Linked DNA regions of Homo sapiens: region 2 is linked to region 1. The links come from fine-mapping of genetic effects on gene expression. A gene starts in region 1. The other region holds a variant in brackets. All regions are shown on one strand. Distances are between the middles of the regions. Region 1 holds the start of FTCDNL1 (formiminotransferase cyclodeaminase N-terminal like). Region 2 has its middle 110 kb from the start of FTCDNL1.

Region 1 (8,340 bases):
TGAAGGACAAAAGTTTTCAGGCGGTAATTAAACCTTTGGTTATGCTATTATACCTTGTCTCCTTGTCCCCTGGCAGCTTAACAATTAATCTTTTCAGAGGAAAGGAAAAACAAGTTACACCCAGGAACTACAGAGCTTAGAACAGCCCTACACTATTAATTTTAATAATGTGAGAAGATAAACATATGTCACTCACTCATGGCCAAACGAGCATCTGTAGAGTCCTGCCCTGGTGTAGGTCTAAAATTTATTACTCAGATTCCTTTACCTAAGACCTTTCTAGGCCATTTAAATGTGCTCACATTGCTTAATTAGAAAAAAAAAATACAGTTTATATGGTTTTATTCCACTCACTTAAAAATAAATGCCTTTAAAATATTTGTAAAAAAAAAAGGTTCATTTTCTTAACTAGTGCTACCTTCCTTGCATTTTGAAAACTACAAAAGATGAAGTAAGAAGAAGATCATGCAACTTCCTATTTTATATAGTTTTTCAACATACTCTAACTCCTGGAAGAAACGAGATATGATGTAATTTTTTTCATCCTAAATCTTCTCCTGAAAAGCTTTTATTCTCAGTTTCATATGATTCAATTGAATCAAATGCTGAAAGAATAAAACACTCTCCTGCAATTTCTTAAGCATGCATATAGAAAAGAAATTACTGCTGGCAAGAGGAGCTGTCAGTGTGAATCTCAGCAGAAGTAAATTGTTTGGTATTTGTAATGGAGTATAATAGCTATAATTCCATTTGAGCTGCTGCCACTAATAAGCTGATAAAAACTGTGAGTTGAGACCCAGGCATCCATCAGTGTGTGTCTTCCACAAATGTCTCTGCACATTCACTTAATCACAGAGACAGGCAACCCAATCCCATTAGATGTACTGTTTCTGACAATGAAGAGCCCGAGCTGGCTCTTTCCACAAAAAGCATGCAAAATCACAGCTGCATACCAACTCCAAAGAAGTTTTCTTATCAGCAATTATCAGGAATTTTCATAGACATTTCTAGCTCCTGCAAAGTTGCAAGACAGTAACTTAAATGTGCTCACAGTTAAGATGGGTTGGGGGAAAACACTTCTTTCTTATGAAAAGCAGTAACCACATTAAAAATGACAATCGGAAATTAAAATTTACTGTCTGAAATGCTTTAGGGTTGGTTTCACCTGTTGCCAAAAAGTTATTGATTTAATAACAGCATTCTATTTAAATGATTGTATACACTGTTGTGTGTATTAGTGTGTGTGTCAAAGTAAAGACAAATAATACCTAACCATGTGTCACCACAGGAACATTTTAAAAAATGAAATGTTTTTTAAAGAGCAGTATCTTTCATAGTAATACTGGCCGAGGGAATAAGGAGGCATGAGTTCCAGTCTTCTGTCACCAAATTGCTGAGTGATCTTAAGCGCATCATTTAAATGCACTTGCCTAACAGTGTCTATACAGAGAAAAGAGGGTAGAAATAATAATACTGTAATGATTGCATGGGCTTTGCTGGCAGGAGTGCTGGGAAAAGTAGTTGGTATTTGGCAAGTTTATTTTTCATTTAATCTGCTCAATAAAAAGCATAAGGTACGATTATGCTCATTCTATTAATGATCAAATAAACGACCCATGAGGGAAACATTATACTTTTATGTAAATACATCCTCCCCAGGAGCCTGTCAATATCCTGAACAACACGCATCTCAGAGATTCACACGCAAATGTTAAGAGCTGCGCTGCTGAGCGTATGCAGACATTTGGAAAAGAGCATATGTGCACATCTGAGTAACTGAGCTATCTCAGTATCCTGGAGTTGCGCAGAGCTGCAACAGCTCAAGAGCAAGGAGGAAAATTCAGGAAGAAAGAAAGAAAAGTGTTCTGTAGATACAGTGTGCACAGTACAAAAATTACTAAATTATCAAAACACTATAATATTCAGCTTCAATTGTCTGTTTTTCCTACCATTTTTGTCAAGAAGAGCTGCTTTTGCTATGTTCTCAACAATGTATTTTCTTCCGGCTTCTGAAACGTTTAGTAAACAGGCAGCCAAACGGAGCCCCACTCTGGAAGAAGACATGATTTTTCTGGAATAGGAGAAAAATTTTTATGTGTCTCTAGAGTTGATTCATATTTTCATGTTTTAACTATAAAAAAATCATAACTTTTTGGAAACGAAGCAGTCATAATATGAGCACTTTACTATTTCATTCCTAGAAAAATTCTAAAGCATAAAATCTCCAGATTGACTAAAATAAGAAACCATGTGTACATGGTCACATACATATAAACCTTGTAACGACACTGGAAAATACCTGGCAGGGTCCTCAGCGTGAATTTCATCATGTAAGTGAAAGTTTTTCATTAAAGTATGTTATCCCATTTTAAGCATAGTTTTCCTTAGCCTTATCCCTGTTTTCAAGGTCTGTACTATTTTACAAACAGGTATGTTTTTTTTGTTGTTAAACTAGACTTAGTGGGGAAATGCAGAAAAAGAAAATGAGGAAGATTATTTAATATGTGGATTCTTATAAAAGAAATTCTTGCAGCAAAAATGAAAGTGTCTACAGGCCATGCCATGGACATTATACAAATAAATAAGGAAGCCATTTGGATGGTTTACATGACAATTGTCTAAGTTCCTCCTTGTTCCACCAAAGTTTCTAAATCAGTTTAAAGTCTTTTTACAAAATTCTGTAACTTGAAAGATGATACATATTCTGATACATATTATTCAATAATATCAAAAATGTGATTTTTGTTGAAAATTAATTATACAGGTTTTGGAGGTTGCTTTGATACTTTTTAGTACTCTAGAATAGCATTTTTGACACATCTTTCCATACTTCAAATGATATTCATGATCTAAAGGAATTAAAACATCTTAAAATAATAAGAAAATAATTTCCCTCTTCAAGTTCAGGACCTCATAACTTTGGTCTCTTTTAAATACCATAACTAAAAATAGATGAGGCCCTCATGAATTCATTCAACAAATATTTAATGAGGGTCTTTTTCTGACAGGTAATGTTCCCTGTGTGAGGGATACCAACCACTGTTCCCTGTGTGAGGGATACCAACCACAGTGGTCTAACTCTGAGACACGCGTTAAACTTTAGAGTTTAAGCTAAAAGTGCTCTGGTGCAAATAATGGTGCTCTCCCTCAATAAATCCACTGGCTTGTTCGCCAGGATCATTCGTTGGCCTAATCATCTTAACCTAGAGAGAGCTCAGGCTTCGTAGCTAGCTCAGGTTTGCAGGCAGGTTTTCATATCATGTCCATCATCTCATCACTGAAAATTCATAAAAATTCTGTCATTAGGTTTTTCTAGATATTAATAACATTGTTGTAATAAAGCAACCCAGACCTCTCGTTTCTATGTAAACAAAAAATTGCTTTACACAAGGGGTGTGGGCGTCTTCTGGTTTTCATTTGTTTTCAGTGTGTTTATGCAGCTTAATTGTCTCATCAGGCACTTTCCCAACATAATTATGCTTTTTAACAAATGGTGTTTATGGCAACCCCTAACAGTGCAAAAGAAAGGATTAGTTTCATCCTCTCATTCCACATTTTGATTCCCTGTGGACAGCTAAATCACACAAAGATGGTGTTAGAAAAATTCACCTTCACAGCGAAGCTGAAATGAGCGGCAGTACCAGGCTCAGAAAGTGACCCAAACGCAAGCCCCCCAAAACACTCTGTGTTTGGGACAGGGAGATCCTAGTCCTCCCAGCTCATCCTTCAATTACCATTGGATGACCTCTGGTGATAGATTAAACACTCGGCCGTCCCCCGCCCCCGCGCCTCCCCACCCGCGGAGAACCTAGCCTAGCAAGTGCAAAGTGCAGCAGTTCACCTGCCCCCTGCGCACGCACCCCACCGGCACTTGGAGGCCGCAAGGACGCTCGCCAGGCTGCCGCAACGCGTGCTGGGGCCAGAACCCCGCTGCTGGGATTCCCTGCGCGGTGCCGACTAGGTTCCTGGGTGGAGTGTCCCAGGACCACGTGGGCTGAAAGGGAACCCGAAGTGACTCCCGGCCTCCCCACAGGTCTCGCGGGACGCAGCAGCGGCGAGGGCGCGGGGTTGTGGCGCCTGGGAGCGAGGGGCAGCCGGCGGCTGCGCTGCCCCGGCCGAGCTCTCGAACCAGCGGCCGCGCCTGCCGCTCTGCGGTTTGGGAGGGGAGCGGACCTGCGAGCGCCGAAGGGCGGTGGGGCAGGGCGACCGCCCAGCCCAAGTCGCCGCCGCGCGTGGCCCGCGCGCAGCCTCCGCCGCCGCGCGTGGCCCGCGCGCAGCGTCTGCCGCCGGCTCCGCCTCCCGGACGCCCGGAGCGCGCCCCACCCCAGCCGCACACCGACCGGGCTGGCTCTGCCTCTCCCTCCCTGACCCGGCACCACGTGCCTGGCGTCCTTGAACGCTTCAGATTTTTATCAGTGTTGCCTTTTCGTTTGCTCTTCCGTATCGCCAGACCCTCCACAATTCTCTAGTCAATTAATGACTTTAAAGGGGCATTGGCATCTAATGATCAGGTCTTTGCCTATTGATCATGCACCAGCAGGGGGCTCTTCTCTCGTTTCCTTGGAAGGGACACACGCACTCACACACACCCTTCTGGTAAATCCCCTCCTGGAGGATTAGTGCCCCCCGTGACTGTGAACTGGACCCACCCCGGGACAAAAGCAGTCCTTGCGCATACCCATTTAGTCAAAGTTACAACGAATATGAATCAGGCTTCCGCATTTCCTTTTTTTCTAGGCCACTCAACCTTGAAAACACATTTCGCTTCCAAAAAATCAGGACCTGCTTTTTTTTTTTTCGTGTAGCAAGGATTAAATGTCACCATTTTGATCCAATTTTGTTCCTGTAGTGAAATAATCACTAAATAACTACTTTGACGGAATAAATTAATTTTTAAATCTATTTTTTATTTTCTAATTATAATTTTTAAACACAGATTTGAGGAAATTAACATTTATGTGGACATTTGGTTTCTAGCCTAATGTGGCATAAAAATAAGTAACATAATGAGTGTTAAAAAAAATCAGGTTCATGATGCTTCTCACATCATCATCATTGTACTTAGATGTCACAACAGTATTATGTGCGATTATGTCAGATCCAGCCTTCTCCATCTCGGAGTGTTGGCAGGTAGGAGGGTTGTTGGCAAGAGGAGGGGTGTTAACCTCAGGATCCTGGATCCATTCCAAGGCTGGTAATTACATTCTGCCAGCCAAAATTCATCCCATAATTTTAATTGGATAAATCCTTTCTGGCCTAAGCTACTGCTATGCCTGTCAAACTGTTGCCACATTTCACCCCAGAGGTGTCTGTGTTTTAGTTGCAAGAATCAGTCCCTTTGAGGTTGGCTTATCTGTTTAAATCCTCAAAATGCACTGGGATCCTATGGAATTAAATATATATTTAGGTATTTTTTTCTACTAAATCTGCATAGAAGTGCATAAAGTAGATACATACCCATGTTATTACCTAAAGACCAATACCTATCTAATGTCAGCATTCACTAGATAATTTTGAGAGCTTTTTAATCAGACCAATATTCCTAACTTTCTTCATCTTCTCTTTTGAGAGCTTTTTTGGCCTCTAGCTTTAGCTTCCGTTTTCCAAAAAAAGTAATGTGGTGTCCAAATGTTCCTTCCATGGTAGGGCAAAGAACCAGAATCCCCTGTATTTCACCTTTCCAAACAATCGGATAATGATACTACTTGCCAAATGAGACAGCGTAATAACATTACATCTAATCTTATAATATTTCTCCAGAGAAAACAGTGTGACACCTGGGGGCTTCATGGTTCTAGCTGTAGAAACTGCCAGAAGGAAAGCTTTTCCCCCCACAGCTCCTAATCCTCTCTTTCTCCCGAGAGACTGTTCCTTACGGAGCTACAGGCTATGGGGGCATTAAGTAAGATAACATTTCTGAAAGCATCCCTTTCTCCACTCTACTCACTTCAAACCCAAATGGAGAGAAAGCAGGGCCCCAGTGTTCTTTGTGGGGGGCAGCATCCGGCCCCTGCCTGAGGAGGGTAAGCATGTATTTTTGGAAAATACAAGGAGACACATACCAACCTGTCCCATGAGAAGTTTAGCGATACGATTGAAAGTATTATTTTGTTCTCTTCAAGAATGGAAAGTTACCATCGGTTACTTTAGGTGTACCGCATGTACTCCTGCCCATTTCACTACATAAAAGAGCTTTATGTCACATTTCTGTGTGCATCTTAAGTCTCTCATTTTTATTTAACTTAGCATTCTTTGGAGGGAGTCTTCCTACTTTTTGAATTAATGTATTATTCTGACTCCTTGATTCTTCTGCTAAATTCACCTTGTGGGCATTAGTTCTTTTGCTCATTATGGTTCCTGTCCAGAAAGATATAAGCCCTGGAATAGAGCAACTGAAACTCCCATGGGTCAGTTCTATCTACGACAACTGCTGTTCTGTAACACTCCCATTGGCTTCCTGTTAGACAAAGAGGACACTTTTCTTTACCCTTTGTTTTCGTTTTTGCAAGCAGGGAGAACTTAGTTCTTGTAGGAGACTTTCCTGACCCAACTGAGCTGAAGAGGGTAAAAGGGAGAGGCTGTGCTCACTGTGGCCTCACAGATCTACCTGAGCCCACAGCCCAGGTGTTGGTTGAGCAGGGCCAGGATGAAGGTAAGGTCAGTGAGGCGTTCACCCTGGGCACAAAATGTAAGTAGGTGCCAAAAAACTCAGGGATGCGACATTTTTTAAAATAAAAATTAATGCAGAAAAGAAATGTGGTGAACAAAATATCAAAATCTTAAGTAAAGACAGGATCCGACCCTGCACTTGCCTCTCAACTCAGCCTCACTGACCTCACCCTGATCCTGGCCCTGGGATTGTCCGCTTGTGCCAACCTGTTTCTGATTGTAGGCCTGAGAGGAAACTGTGCCACTCCGCCCTGCCTGCATCCTTTCTTCTGCCCCACAAAATGGGCAACAAAACCAACAATGTCAAGGATAGAAATTTCCAGGCCAGTGGAGACATATAATTCATACTCTGTTCAAGAGTTTCTAGACCTCCATAGATAGGAGACAGCCAATTTATTTCAAAAGAAGGCAAGCCAGGCGCAGTGGCTCACACCTGTAATCCCAGCACTTTAAGGAGGCCAAGGCAGGCAGATCACTTGAGGTCAGGAGTTTGAGCCCAGCCTGGCCACCATGGTGAAACCCTGTCTCTACTAAAAATACAAAACTTGGCCAGGTATGGTGCTGCATGCCTGTGATCCCAGCTACTCAGGAGGCTGAAGCATGAGAATCACTTGAACCTGGGAGGTGGAGGTTGCAGTGAGCCAAGATTGTGCCACTGCCCTCCAGCCTGGGTGACAGAGCAAGACTCTGTCTCAAAAAAAAAAAGAGCTGGGCGCAGTGGCTCACGCCTGTAATCCCAGCACTTTGGGAGGCCGAGGTGAGCAGATCACAAGGTCAGGAGATCGAGACCATCCTGGCTAACACAGTGAAACCCTGTCTCTACTAAATATACAAAAAATTAGCCAGGCATGGTGGCGGGCGCCTGTAGTCCCAGCTACTCAGGAGGCTGAGGCAGGAGAATGGCGTGAACCCAGGAGGTGGAGCTTTGCAGTGAGCCAAGATTACACCACTGTACTCCAGCCTGGGCAACAGAGCGAGACTCCATCTCAAAAAAAAAAGAAAAGAAAAGAAAAAGAAAAAGAAGGCAAAACCTTCTTGGAACTAGGAAAAGAATCAACTTTACGTACCTGATACATTTCAGAGTATGAAAATTAGGTTTCCTATTGTGCAGCAGAATTTTGAAATGTTTTTAAAGAACCTCCTAATTAATACTATCTATATTATGGGTTGTTTTTTTTTGGTGTAGCATTTGTTTGTGTTCAGGAAAACATGAATAGAGAATTATCCTTAGAAAGACAGAAGTCTAATTCTTATTGCAACTTGTTTCACTTTAATCACATTTTTGCACTACGTCAGACTTCATTCTATCTTCTTCCCTCATGGAACGTGAAAAGATTTTATTTCTCCTTGCATATAAATGTGGTCTGATAAATGAGGGATTTTTTAAAGTGATCTTAGTTGTCACTATAGGACAGTGAAGTGTTTTTAATTACCTGTGAATTTTAAATTGTTTTATCATGTGATATTATGAAATATGTGTTCTACTAGTCATTTTTCTAAAATAGCAAATAGGTTTCACTGCTGCCATTATTAGTTTGGAGTGACAGAAGCTGTGCTATTAATTTAAGCGAAGAAAAGGAGGTTGATGTCCAGAAAAAAGTGACAGCAACTAACAGAAACACCTCCATTCCCCACACACCTGTGTATTAATTACATAAAATGATCACTAGC
Region 2 (8,340 bases), 110 kb before region 1:
GAATATTACCCTGCTTTTTTTTTTACATGTGTATAACAAATTAAAGTTTACAGCTTAAATTAGTACGGGGTCCTATTCCATGCTTCCTTGGTTTTTCCCTAGACATATCTTTAGTGGTGAGCAAGAAGCATTTCCATCTGTCCTCAGGTAAAAAAACTTCTTTTATAGAAATGGGCAAAGAAATCAGAAGATGCCCAAGTAGAAGAGTTCTTCCTCGTCTTTTCATGTTTGGTGGTGAGCAAGCACACGGTATGCAGACGCCATAGCTGTGTTCTTCTCGCACTAAGGCTGTGTCTTAGTGAAGGCAGTGCTCTTGTCTGCCATATTCACAGCTCTATCATAATTTCCAGCATGACACCAGGCAACAAGGCACTTGATAAATATCTGTTGCATATTTGTGAATGAATACAGCAGAGCCAGAATAACTACCATCTATTTTTCCCTCAAAGACTCACATACGACAGCGGACAAATCTATCATTTGTCTATGTACACTACCCTCTAATAGCCTTTCCTTTTATAGCTATGAATTCTTTGAAAATGTTTCAAGATTTTCTTCCCAGCAAAGTCAGAATAGCCTATGCCAACCCCAATTAGCTTTGTGACTATTGGGAAGTAAATGGGACAGAGGGCATTTTCATCAGCCCACCAACTCCAGCATTAAGTGCCTTTTAAAACTGGCTTTCTGATAAGCAAAGCTCTCCAAGCTTCCAGGCACTTAAACATTTATCTGTAAATATTTGACAGTGATAAAGAGATGGGTGCAGGTTAAGTGGACGCATCTTCAGATCTTTACAGAGCAAAGAGGCTATCAACCTGACTCTTAAAAACATGCCTCAGGTTTTCATTTGTCTGCCCTTCAATGTTTCCATGAGCTTCCTTGGATCATTTACCTGCCTTAGTCAACCTTAAACAAATACCAGTTTGCACTCTGGCCTCCAACCTGTACTTCCAGAGTTATGGGGGATGCCTGACTTGCTTGTTAGAACTCACAATGTGGATGCTAACCTTGACTTTCTAGATAGAAGAAAATCTTCTCAAACGCTACCTGCAGCATTCTCCCTTAAAGGTAGAAATAACAGTATGCCTTCTGTCTCATATTTTGTCTTTACCTCTGTATTGCTAATTCAATCCATTAAGCTGCCTTCACTGAGGAAAAACAATATTTTAACATGCTTAGATTCAATTAGAGAAGAAGCAAATCCCCTTCCCACAGAGTCAAGCCTGGTGATGTTGGTTTTTACAGGAAGAACTTGACTAGTGTCATTCGGCATCACAGTAGTGATATCACTTCAATCTACAACTGTGAGTGTCTACACAGCCTCAAAAGACGCAGCTACCCATACACTGAGTTCAGGCACCAACCAACCCAGTCAAAGCAATAGTCAATTGAACTGGTAATTTGACTGGGTTGAAGGGTTGTTTGATTGAACTGATTAATTCAGTTCAAAGCAGTTATCCTGGGAACCCCCTGTTGCCCAAACTGTCCCACTGTGGAATGAATGTGGACCACAGTGGACACAGGGAAACAGGAGAGATTGGCAGAAAGCCATTGGCTGCCAGACTGCTGAGCCACAGTGCCTGAAGTATCATGGAATAAATTTCCAAAACAGCAACTTTACTTTCTGTGTTCTCCACCTTGTCTGAGAGCTGTGATGTTGTTAAGAGCAAGAACTCTGGAAACAATTACCTTGGACCAAATCTCATGTCTGTCACTTACCATCTTTGTGACTTTGAGTGACTTAACTAATCACTCTCTGCCTCCAGTCTATAATTTGGGCATAATACTACCCATCTTACTGGGTTGTTTAGTGAATCAACAGGTTAATACATATAAAGCACTTAATAAACAATGAATGTTAGCCATTATTTTTGTTATTATCTAACAAAAGGAAATTTCAGATAGGAGCCTTCATAGTATGAATAGAATTTCCCAGATTGCCTTGGATACTTTTGAATTTGAAATAATATATTTCCTAGTAAAGACATTTTCATTTGTCAATAAATATTTTATTTTTCCAGAGTTCTCCAAATACTCATAGGTATACTAAATATATCAACAGAAAGGTTACCTGGAATTATCCTTTTGAAAACTTTCATAGTGGTGCTAAAATGACCAGAACTCTTCCTGTGTTGACTAAAACAATCTTTTAGAGAGATGAAATGTGTAGAAAAAAATTAATTTTGTGTGTCACGCCTGGGGCCACTGTGTCTCCTGGGCACAGAGCTGGCTTCATAGGCTCATAGGTCCCGCACTTAGAAGGCCCCACACTTGGTTTAATGCTCTGCTGGCATCATTTTGAAAGGCTGAATAACGTGAATAAAGAACTCCGCATTTCATTTTGCAGTGGTCCCTGCGTGTCACGTAGCTGGTCCTGCCTGGGTGTGACCTATTACTGAGAGGTAGAGTAATGCAAATTCCACAATTAGGAGCGTTTCAGTTAGAAGATATTTGTATGATACTTGAACCTGAGACATAAGGTTCCCTGTTTCTTCCTGTCTGTTGGGGAAGCTGCCTCAATGACCACAGCTGCCTCACGGCACAGGCTCACGGAGCCTCTCCATTAACTGCTTCACTGGGTTCTCACAGGTTGGGGGAGTTGATAAGAAACGGGATTCTCAGTCATTTCCCTCACCTGCAATTCCATAGATGTCTGCTCATTATTCAAAAACATATTTTGAATCATTTTAAGAGCCTAAAAGTTTCTCGATACCATACACTGAAAGAAAGATTTGGGTTTCTCTCCCCCATCCCAGCCTTCTCTAGTTCATGGCTCATTCAGAAGCTCTTGACGTGGTCTCTCTATTGTTTTTCTACAGCATGAGATAAAAACTACTGTTTTAGTTGTTTGATTTTTACTGTGTGATTAGTCTAGGCATGATAGACAGGAAAGCACGTAAAGCATTATTTTATTTGAAAGCCAGAAGCACATCATGTTTATTAATAAAGAGCCTGGTTTACATAGATTTTATTATTATTGAGCATAAAATGGTTTATATTACAAGCAAGGGTGAAATTACTAACTAATTAGCCTGTGAAGATCACGTTTAATGGAATATATAAATCTAGGGCATTGCTTTTTTTTTCCCCCTTGCAAACCTTAAGGGTCTTTTTCATTAAACATGTACATATGCAGTCTTCATGCTGAAACAGAGGATTGTGATACACAATTCAAGGTCAAATGATTCACTTTGTGTTTCCCAAAGTCCAAAATCTCAGTGCTTTAAATTCCTTAACTCTTAAGAAAGCTCGTTTCAATACACAGCTGCTTTGGTGTGAATGCTGAATTCAACTATCAATGATGGTAAAGAGAAAAGCAAATAATGATGGAGTGAAGCAAAGGTGAAGACTGTAAGGGCTAAATTTCCTCCTCTCTCTCTGTATCCCTCTCTCAGTACTATAGCTTAAGACCCACTTAACTCTTCCAAAGGAACTTTGTTTCTATTAACTCAGAGGATTGCACAACCTTTGTAAACACACCATTCTCATGTATTTCAGTTAAATTTC[G/T]TAATAGCACCATAAAATGTGACAGGCGTTGCAATAAATTCTCAGTCACAGGAAGCCCAAATTGTATGGGGAAATTACTAGAAACCATGTCTCAGAAGGAAGGAAGAAATGCAAAATTCTTCAAGAACCTGGAAAAATAATGTTAAATGTTTCCTTAAAGTGTATGTCTCTCATTGAAATAAAATGAAGACTGTGTTTTAAGTAAGATTTCAAAGTTTGAAGCAGTGTGGCTATTTTAATCACCCGACTTCACTCACATTCTTGAATGCTGGTTCCTGCCTCAAGGCCACTGGAGAGGAGATAGCCCTTCCTCTTTCCCTACCCTCTACCACTTCGGAATCGGGGTGCTCTTATCAACAGGGGGCTAAAACTGCAAGGATGCACACAAATGTGTGCTGCGAATTTTTTATTTTCAGAAGGAGCTTTACGGGTAAAACTTAGAGTATATTGGGCTTATCATCTATTCATTGGTTAAAAGTTGACTTGCAACATAGTGTGATTCTAGTTTTTACATTCAAAATCCAAGTCACCACACTGTGGACAACACACTTCTGTTTTGGGAAGCTAGAGTATGCTTATGTGAAAGAACAGAGGCCTCCATACAGGAGTTTGGCTAATTGGGAGAAAGTTGTTTCATTCCTCCCTTGCTTATTCGAACAGCCTCAGGGTGACTACAACAATCAAAACCAAACCAAAACAAAAAACCCAGTTTAGCAGCTATGATAATACTAGAGTGATTTTCAGTTACTCTGTGACCATCCCAACACCCCGAAATGCTTAAAACATTATTCACAATGAAAATAACGCTGCATGCTGCCATAAAGTCCCCGTCATTCCGTTTTATGGAAGTGCTTTTGTTTAATGTCAGAACTCAGAGCAAATCTAGACTTACCAGTCCATAAGATTTGCATTCAGGAGACGTTGTGTGTAGAAGAACTTCAGTATGGGCTCTGGAGGGCCTAGGATCCTGGGACACGGTGGGGTTTGCGAACTCTGGGAGCCGGGCCTGCCAGGCTCACGTCATTTAAAGATGAACACTGCCCCCTGCTGGCGAGAGTACGCATTGCCGCCAGAAGAACTTCGAGGGTGGAAAACAACCACTGTTTAAAGGGGAAATTAATTTCAATTACCGCACCTTTTTTCACTTCTTAGCTGTCAGTTCAGAAGAATTATAACTGCAAAGAATCACTATTGCATGGAAAAACAACTCGGTTCATTTTATGACTGTTAGTCATCTTTATGAGCTACCATCACTGGCAAAGAGCCACCTAAATGAAAGGACAAGAGAAACAAAGGCAGCCACGGTGGTGCCGGAAACTTTTGAGATGGAGCAGGGCCTGGAGAAGAGAAAACTCTGCAGGTGTTAATAGTTCAGAGTCTGACGTAGCCAGTTGCACCACCAAAAGGTAGAGTGGGAACTCAAGCCAAGCTGTAGTTCTGAGAGCTCTCCAGAGCCTCTGAATCGCCTTATTTTCTGCCCCATTCCCTCTTGCCCCCTAATCTGAGCATCATGGGAGCTGCCCGGAGGAGTGGAGCACAGGGCTGGAGCCCCATTCTAAGGACGTGTTAGAACACCATAAGGACATTCCATAGGTGCCCTCCCTTCCCCAGCTTCGTGGGGTGAGCTGTGATCAAGGTGATCTCCAAGAGCAAGGCTGCAGGGGAGAAAGGCCCATCCAATGGATTCATTAGAAACAAAGAGTTGCCTGCTCTGGCAACCTCAAAGGCAATTGTCATTGAATCTCCTGTAGCCTCTTTGAGTTAGGAAAACTCGGAGGGAGGTTGTTGAGGGGAGTCTGGAAACGCAACTCACATTCACACGAAAGGGAGGTGGCAGTCCTGGGGAGAGCTAACAGGTAGCAACTCTCGATTTGAAAATTTGGATTACACAAATTGAGCACATGCCCCTTTTCATGCTGTTAGAAGACAGGGCTAGGATCTACTTTCATGAAATGGTTCGGCAAATGTTATAGAGGGTCCACTGTGTGCCAGCTTCCTGCAGTGTCTCACAAGTCTTCATTCAGGCAGTCCTTCACAGATCACAAAGAACGGTCATGCCACTCTATCAACACAACTCCCTGAGGCAGGAATTATGACCTCCCCTCTATATGTTAAAAAATTTGCAATTAGAAAGATTAAATAACTTGCTTATGTTCGTGCAGTTAATAAGTAGAAGACAGCCTGTGTTCATCCTGCCTTGGGTATTTTAGAGTTGGCATTAGCAGGAGGATCGCTTGAGGCCAGGAGTTCGACGCTGCCGTGAGCTATGATCGCTCCACTGCACGCTAGCCCGGGCGATAGAGTGAGACCCTGTCTCTCAAATAAAACAAAACAAAAGAAAAAACAAAACTCAAAGTCTCCATATCAACCTATGAAAATACAAATGCAAAACTGGGTAACCAAAGAAGTCTATTAAATATGTACCTAATTAATTGATGAACTCCTTGTAGGAAGTAGCACTGGCCCACAAAGCACCACCATGCTTTTTAAATAAGAACTAATTCAACATTTTATTTTTTAATTAGCAGTCCCTTTCGATTAGGTGACATATTTATATTACTCATTTCAGAATAATTATTATACTTACGGAACAAATAATATATTCCTTCAAAAACACCTCCCCCTCATTAACATTCTCTAGCTCATCTCCACTTTGCTTCCAGAATTGTCTTTGTAATCCTAAATAAAATATTTTCAAATGTTACTTCCCTCCTCAAAATTCTTTATTGTCCTCTGGAACTAGATGTTAACAAGCGCACTATAAGAAGTATTTCAAAACCAAATCAAAGGTTTTAAGAAAGCTTCATTTTATATCTTCCTCTTGACATATTAATGCTCTGAAAATCCTACAGTAAAAAAAAAATTAACTTTTTTGTACTAAACATTTCTCAAATATATTGGACCACAGAATGTTTTTAAATTAATGGAACAGCTATTAACATATCGACGAATCTGGGGAATACAGTTTATGTAATATTGGCTGCCTTGATAAAATCTGGACTCTTTAGCATGGCACATGGGCTTTTCATAAACCAATACTTGCCTACCGTCTCCAGCTTCATTTCCTACCCTCCGCCCTCATATGCCCCACAGCAGACCCAACTATTTGCTATTTCCAGAATGTATCTTGTTCTCTCTGCCTCAATTTTTTTTTTTAAATACACTGGTCCTTCTGCCTAGAGCATCCTGGGGCTTCTGTGTTCATCTGATCCCCTCCTAACCATTCTTTCAAATTCAAGTCAAGTCTTCCTTCTCTGTGAAGACTCCCCCACTACCCCCAACACTTCCCTAACGCCTCCCATGAAGACTTACACCCTGCTCCTTCTTTCCCCTGGCCCTGTGGGTACCTCCCTCCATTTACTATACCAATGTGGGGTGGGGGGAATTCCTCTGTTTTCCCATTAACTGCTCAAAGGCTCCAAAGTAACTCTGTTTCTTAGGATTTATCATAATGCCTAGAATGTTCGGGGATCAACGCCTGGAGAATTTTGCACTGAGATTCTCTTCCTTATTTTAATTTCTTCTTTATTCAAAGTAGTCCTACACAAAGCAATTTTATCTCTTCTTAAAGTCTTGATGATACTACTACTAATAGCTCATAGTTATTGTGTGTTAACTATGTGCCAGGCTCCATACTAAGTGTTTTTTATGGAATACATTGTTTAATGATTTCAACCGCCATATGATATGAATATATGATTATCTCCATCTTACAGATGAGGAAATCAGGCACATAGAAATGAAGTCATTTGCTCAAGGTTACACAACAGGTGGAAGCAGAGTTGGGATTTGTACCCAAAGAGTCTCTCGGTTTCTAGTCAAACAAGGAAAAAGTTCACTACAATAGAAGTAGAAAAATAAGGTATGAGTTTTCCTCCAATTCACAAAGGAGGAGGAAGAATTATGCTTGGATATTTATGGTGCAGTGTAGGAGGACCACAAAGGAACTACAAATGGGTCTCGCAAAAACCCACCTGTTAGGTTCTTGGGGAAAATAAGCGAGCATTATAAAGAAGACTGGAAATGTTATTTATCTGTAAGAATGAAGCAGCCTTCAGGGGTTACCTGGAGGGCCAGCTGGAGGCTAATCTCCAACTAAGCTCCTGCTGTTTTATCCCTAGGGCAATGGGAATATCAGTGGCAGCTGTTTTAACAGCAGCTGGGGCTACAGTGGTGTGGTTACCATAACCACCATGATCACCTCAACAGCCCATGTGGATCTGTCCCCAGCCCTGTAGTCTCCTCTCTACAGATGGGGAAACTGAGGCTCAGTGGGCCCAGTGACTGCTTAAGGTCACTCAGTTAATAACAAAGTTGAGCTCAAATCCAGATCTGACTTCAAAGCCCCTCGAAAGACTCTCAGGAAACCAAGCAGTCTTTAGAAGCCCACTAGGATTTTAGCTGCTTATGTGAAATTGTATATTCTCTTGTATTCTTTTCTTGAATGTTAGCCTGAACATCCAAAACCAGACTGTTTACCTCTTGAGACAGAATGTTATGCTTTTGTCTATCACTGTTGAGTGGAGAGTACATATTCATTGAACGTTTCTGCACTGATTAAATGAGGACCAAAAGCAAAGGTGTAGATGGAGTGGTGGAGACTCTCCCTGACTTGCAGGCAAAGGCAGCCTGTCAGAGGCTCTGGGCGTTTCTCCTGAGACTACATGCTGTGTGGAACCTATGCACGTCCCTTGCCTCTGCCTCTGACTGGCTGCAAGATGGTAATTAAGCCTCTTAGTGTCTCGGGGTCTGCAGGCCATCGTTAATAAAATGAGGTTATAGGTTCCTCTGAGGGTTCTTCTAACACTACATTTCCAGAGTGATATTTTCAGA

What was found.
Region 2: its variant is fine-mapped to the expression of FTCDNL1 in whole blood (INTERVAL, PIP above 0.99).

The regions. Positions count from the first base shown.
Region 1 is chr2:199,846,899-199,855,238 of GRCh38, forward strand. It overlaps FTCDNL1 (formiminotransferase cyclodeaminase N-terminal like), which reads right to left and starts at 4,294. Exons shown (of 5, transcript NM_001363886.2): 1 at 3,842-4,294; 2 at 1,950-2,071. The coding sequence starts at 2,064. RefSeq lists a silencer at 4,075-4,354 and an enhancer at 4,186-4,760.
Region 2 is chr2:199,735,452-199,743,791 of GRCh38, forward strand. It overlaps a transcript of FTCDNL1 not described here. Among named protein-coding and RNA genes, the nearest start is that of FTCDNL1, 110 kb to the right of the region's middle. The variant G/T (reference allele first, on the strand shown) is at 3,508.